2 separate regions of the Homo sapiens genome follow, and region 1 is linked to region 2. The links come from fine-mapping of genetic effects on gene expression. A gene starts in region 2. The other region holds a variant in brackets. All regions are shown on one strand. Distances are from middle to middle.

Region 1 (2,917 bases), 47 kb after region 2:
CTTACAGTGTTTAAATAACTTGCCCAAGGTCAAAGGGCTACAAAGTGGTGGAGCAGGAATTCAAACTCTTGTCTTCTGGGCTCCACCGTGCATGCTCTTTCCTCCACAGCTCATTGCCCGGGGCCTAAGCACCCCTCCCCTCACCCGGGCCTGCATGCTCACTCACAGATCTGTGCTAATTACACAGCAACATAAAACTTTATATGTGGTTTGTTATTTTATATCCAGGAACATGGTCCACAGCCTTCATTACATAAAGCAGCTGTGTGTATACTTGGGGTCTAAGTGCTATTTAGTGGTCAGCTCGACGGGGTATTTTGTTTCAAGCATCACATTTCTTTTTTCCCTTTCCATACTCCTATTGAATCCCAAATAGAGGAGTGGAGCCTCACACAGCTTGGGCTAAAGTGAAAGGCAAAAGTCTCCTAAATGGCAATCATCCCACTAATTAGATTGGGAGCCACAGCACAGGAATTGCCATATTTGGTATGTATGTGCCCCCCAGTGTGTGTGTGGTGTGTGTGTGTGTGTGTGTGTGTGTGTTTACTAGCCATACCATCTGGCCTGTGCTATCTGTGCTACCTTCCCATTCATGTCTTAAAGGAAGCAAATGCTTTAGTGGAAAGAGCTAGACAGTCCAGTTCTTCTAATTATCAGCTATATGACTTGAATGTGTCATGCCTCCCCTCTGAGACCCAGTTTCCTCATCTTTAAAATGGGGATAAAAATATCTGTCTCACAACATCATTACAATCCTTTAGATACAGGGTCTTTCACAGAATTGGTCTGCAATAACCCCCAGCTCCTTTTCCTCCTTCATGGCCAAACTGCACCCCAGCCCAGTCCCGACTTCAGCCTGCTATCTCAATATTCACCCCTTCTACTCTAACCAGAACCTTCTTTTCCCTACCCCATGTTGGCCCTTTCACTTTCCTCATTCCCATTATCTGGAATGCAAGCAAGGCCCTTTACATCGATTTAAATCCTACTTTTCCTTTATAGCCTAATTCAAATCCTGCCTCCGCCAGGATCATTTAGTAGTTCTATACGAAGGTGAGAGTCTTCAGCTCACTGACTTTGCCTGGACTTTTACAATACTGCACCACTCCCCTGGCCCTTCCATGCATGCGAGTGGGTGGGTGGTGATTTCTAACTCTTTTTCTCTTTAAAAATATTTAATTGACAAATAAAGATTGTAAAGTCTGGCCAGGC[G/A]CTGTGGCTCATGCCTGTAATCTCAGTACTTTGGGAGGCCAAAGCAGGCAGATCACCTGAGGTCATGAGTTCGAGACCAGCCTGGCCAACATGGTGAACCCCATCTCTACTAAAAATACAAAAACTTAGCTGGGCGTGGTGGCAGGCACCTGTAATCCCAGCTACTCAGGAGGCTGAGGCAGGAGAATTGCTTGAACCTGGGAGGCGTAGGTTGCAGTGAGCCGAGATTGCGCCACTGCACTCCAGCCTGAGCAACAAGAGGGAAACTCCATCTCAAAAAAAAAAGAAGATTGTATATATTCAAGGTATACAAAGTGATAATTTAATATATGTATATATTATGTAATGATTATTAAAATCAAAGTAAAAAACACATCCGTCACCACACTTGCTGTATATTAGATTCCCAGAACTTATTCATCATATAACTGAAAATTTATACTTTTGACCAGTCCGTCTATACTGTCGGTAAGAATGTAAATTGGTAAAGCCATTATGAAAAACAGAATGAATGCTCTTCAAAAAATTAGAAATAGGACTACCATTTGATCCAGCAATCCCACTTCTGGGTATATATCTATAGGAAATGAAAACAGCATGATCCAGAGATATCTATACCTACCATATTCATCGCAGCACTATTCACATAAATGCATCTTAACTTACCACCTACCCATGTTTTGTCTTGTTCAGAAATGGCAAGTATCCAGAGGGCAGGACTATATTCCTTCCTGCCTAAGACACCACAATTCATATGGGGACCCAGTAAATATTTGTGAGTTAACACAGCCAATGCCTCTCATTGCTATTATATCCCTGAGGCTGCACACAGCCCGTCTGGTACCTGGCAGGTCAGCCACCCTCAACCAGCACCCACAATTTATGCAGAGCAAGCTCAGGGGATTATCTCCTCTGAATGGCAGGATGAAGGGATTTCCAAGATAATGCATAGTCCTTCCTGGTACAGTCTGATTTCTGAGTCTCCCCAGTAGTTCTCCTCCATTCTGCCTCTCCTCTCCGCCTTCATTGTTGACAATCCCTGTATGTGCCAAGCAATTGCAGTCCCATGTCTTAGCACATTCAGTTCCCACTGCCTGACCTTCCCTTCTTCCTATTCCCTGTCCAACTCCTGCTCATCTTTAAAAATCAACTGAAACATGACCTTCTCAGCAAAGACCTTTGCTGATCTCCTTTCTCCTAAGGCTGACTTCGTTGCTCCTTTTGTCCCCTCTATTTGTTTCCCAAAGCCCCCTGTTTGTTTGCATCTCTGTCTTCCTCACTGGATTGCAAGCTCCCTAGGAACAAAACCCTGGACTGATTCCTATGTACTCTCTACTCCCCCACTGGGCAGGCCCACGTAGGGGTTTTGTTTTTAATGAATGCCATATTATATGGCAATTTTAATCCTTTGTTGCACTTTTGTGACTATGTGTCTATTTTCCCATTGCCAGGAGAAAATGCCCTTTTCTGAATTAGTTTCTGCACTTTTTCTGGTTCTTTTTTTTTTAATTTTTTTTTTTTTGAGACAGAGTCTCTCTCTGTCACCCAGGTTGGAGTACAGTGGCGTGATTTCGGCTCACTGCAACCTACGCCTCCCGGGTTCAAGAGGTTCTCCTGCTCAGCCTCCTGAGTAGCTGGGATTGCAGGTGCCTGCCAGTACGCCCAGCTAATTATTTGTATTTTTAGTAGAGACGGGTTTTCACCA
Region 2 (2,917 bases):
AGCCCTTTTCACACCACTGCAATTGAATCTGCATCTCCCACAAATCCACATGTTGCCTAAGGACAAGGTCTACACCTAATCCCTGTCTGTATTCTTAGTGCCCCATGGAGGCACTGGACAAGGTAGGTGCTCAACAGTGGTTGGCAGAATGAATGAATACACCTGAGGGAGTGGATTGGGCAAAGGCCTCCTTTGACTGATGCTTAGGGAACACGAAGGTGAATTTTTACCTGTAAGGCTGGAAAGTTAAGCTGGAATTCCATCAGAAAGACCCCTAAATGGCAGGCCAAGGTAGAAAGGCGTTACTGTCTAGGCAGGTTTGAGCTTTTAAAGATCTATTTAGCCGCTATGTAGAGGACAGATTGGAGTGGATGATGGGGTGCAGGGTAATCAGAAAGAGGCAGCGCAGTTAGGAAGCTGTAATCATGATCCAAGCAGAAGGTCAGGATGGTTTGGACCAGACAACAGCCACGGGAATGGAGAGAGAGAGGCAGAGTTGGATGAGAGCTTTGAAGCTCCAACTACCCTGGTGGCAGCAATACTGGGTCACTAGCCAGCTATTCCAATTATTCACAGAAATCAATTCCATTCCACAGAGGCTCAGATAAAACTTGTGTTGCCAGCCGACAGTAATGGATGGGGAGCTTAGAGTAAGGAGATAAGAGGAGGCCCAGAGTGTGGGGTGATCAGGTGGGGCTTTGCAGGGTTGGGGAGGAGCGGTAAGAGGTTATCAAAACATCCCTTCAAATAGCAAAGGCTCAGAGCTGGCCCGCCCAGTTGTGATCTGTGACGGGACAAGTAGGCTCCTTTCCAGGCCTGGAGCTGTGAGACTCAGGCCTAGTGGTCCTTGGGCATTATTCCCAAGCGGAATAATGGGGAAGCTAGATCAGTCTTGCTGCCCTGGGGCTTATATTGAGATCTAGTGCCTTCTATCGGGGAGGTGGAGAGACAAGGGCAAGGCCATGGAGTAGGGAGGATGCCCTCTGAGGCCCCTTTCAGCCTGGACTTTCTGGAATTCTGAGTCCATGAATCACCATAACGACATTTTGTCTGCAGGATCAGGAATAGAATGTTCCATTCTCCAGCATGGGACAGAGGGAGTAGGAGGCAGCCTTCATGGTCTCAACTAAGCTGGGCCAGAAAGGCTGTGTCCCCATCAGCCTCAAATTCCTCCACATTTGCTGCTAAGGGAGCCACAGAGCATCCTTCCTCCGGAGACATAAGAGAGGATGTGAATGTGAGAGAGAAAGTTTGCCCAGGGGAAGAGAAAGAAAGCAAAAGACACTGGGGCTTCAGCAGTCAGAAGGTAGACCACAGACTTATGCTGATAATAAATAATTGATTCTTCCATAGTGTTTGCCATCATGGCAGGCACTATCCTAGATGCTTTATGTGAACTCATCATCACCCTCTCAACAACGCTCATTTTATAGAAGAGGAGACCAAGGCCCCAAGTTGAAGTGAACTTCCCCAAAGTCACACAGCTGGAGGTGCAGATGCACTTGGACCTGGACAGTCTGACTTCACTGCATCCCAACACTGTGAAGATGATCTGCTTGCAAAGGGCGTGCTATGCACCAGACACTCATTTAGGCACTTTTATAAGAATAATATCATTTAGCACCTAGAAGGAGTTATCAGCTCCCTTTTACTGATGAGAAGCTAAGGCTCACAGAAGTAATTTGCCCATCTTCTGCCCATTTCAGAAAAGTAGCAGAACTAGGATGTGAACACTCATCTCAGATCCTTGCACGCTCACCTCTGGGTCCTCCCTGCTGGGCAGGGGCTGTGCTGAATGGCCGTGCTCGCGCAGCTCCGGATGGAGGCAGAGTCTGAGGGACCAGCCCCTCCTGCCCTCCTCAGACAGCTTTTCCTCACAGTGTGGGTGGAGGCAGCTGGAGGTTGGCCCTAGCGGCCCCATCTGCTAACACTCAGGGCTGGGAGAAGATAGTGCTTTTTATCTCTGCAGAGAGTTCAAGAGTTTATCCCCACCCGGGGCAGTGGGGAGCCTGGTGCCCATTCTTGGAGGGTGTCCCATGACAGGAGAGATGGAAGGCACTTCCTCTCCCCTCGAGCACTCACTCCTCTCCACACCCCAGCATCACCAGAGGCCAGCGGGAAATGTCTTGGACCAAGCCCTTGGACACGGGTGCTGGGTCCAGTGGAAAATATCTGCCTCAGGGTCCAGGGAGGGCTGGGTACCAAGCAGCCAGAGCGGCCTGTAAAAGGGTCACAGCTCTGGAGGTGGGCACCCCATGGGCGGTGGGGATGGGGGTGCACTTCTAGCTCCGCCACCTTCTGACTGTGTAACCTGGGACACAGTACTTCACCATCGAGCCTGTTTCCTCCTGTCGAAAGCTGAATTCCCATTCCTGCTTTGGAGCGTTGTTGTCAGGGTTAAAACAGGAAAGATCAAGTATTCAGTACCTGCCTCACAGTCTGACTTATAGATGGGGCTCTGAAATGACCCCTTTCCTGTATGCACCACATGAATTTGACTTCAATCAATAAAACAAACTCCACTCTAGTCTCCCATAGATAGAGTGAGCGAGCTCACCCTCCTCCTCCAGCCACCTTCCTTTTCCCAGGTCCTCCACATTTTCCCCGTGCCCTACTGAGGACAGAGCACACCCCTCAGCCATTCAGGACCCCCCATGAGTATCTGGCTACCTGTCTCTAGCCCCCAAGTGACTCATTCTCCCTGAACAAAGCAGGCCCTATCTTTGTCCCCCAGTGCATCCTTCAAGGCCCAGATCATCCGCTGCCTCCTCTCTGAAGCCGCCCCCAGATCCCTGAGGGAGAATGAATCACTTGCTCCACTGTGCTCCGACAGTTCTGAGCTCATTCTGCTTTGTGTTATGGGTATGGATTTGTGTATCTGCCTCTCCAGCAGACTGGGATCATGGTCTTCTAAAAT

The links. PIP is the estimated chance that this variant, and not a neighbour inherited with it, causes the effect.
Region 1: its variant is the best candidate, but not a certain one, in a credible set for the expression of LINC02794 in tibial nerve (GTEx, PIP 0.82).

What each region holds. Positions count from the first base shown.
Region 1 is chr1:48,001,545-48,004,461 of GRCh38, reverse strand. No RefSeq gene overlaps it. Among named protein-coding and RNA genes, the nearest start is that of TRABD2B, 5.6 kb to the right of the region's middle. The variant G/A (reference allele first, on the strand shown) is at 1,213.
Region 2 is chr1:48,048,127-48,051,043 of GRCh38, reverse strand. LINC02794 (long intergenic non-protein coding RNA 2794) reads right to left here and starts at 1,273. Exons shown (of 15, transcript XR_007066073.1): 1 at 231-1,273.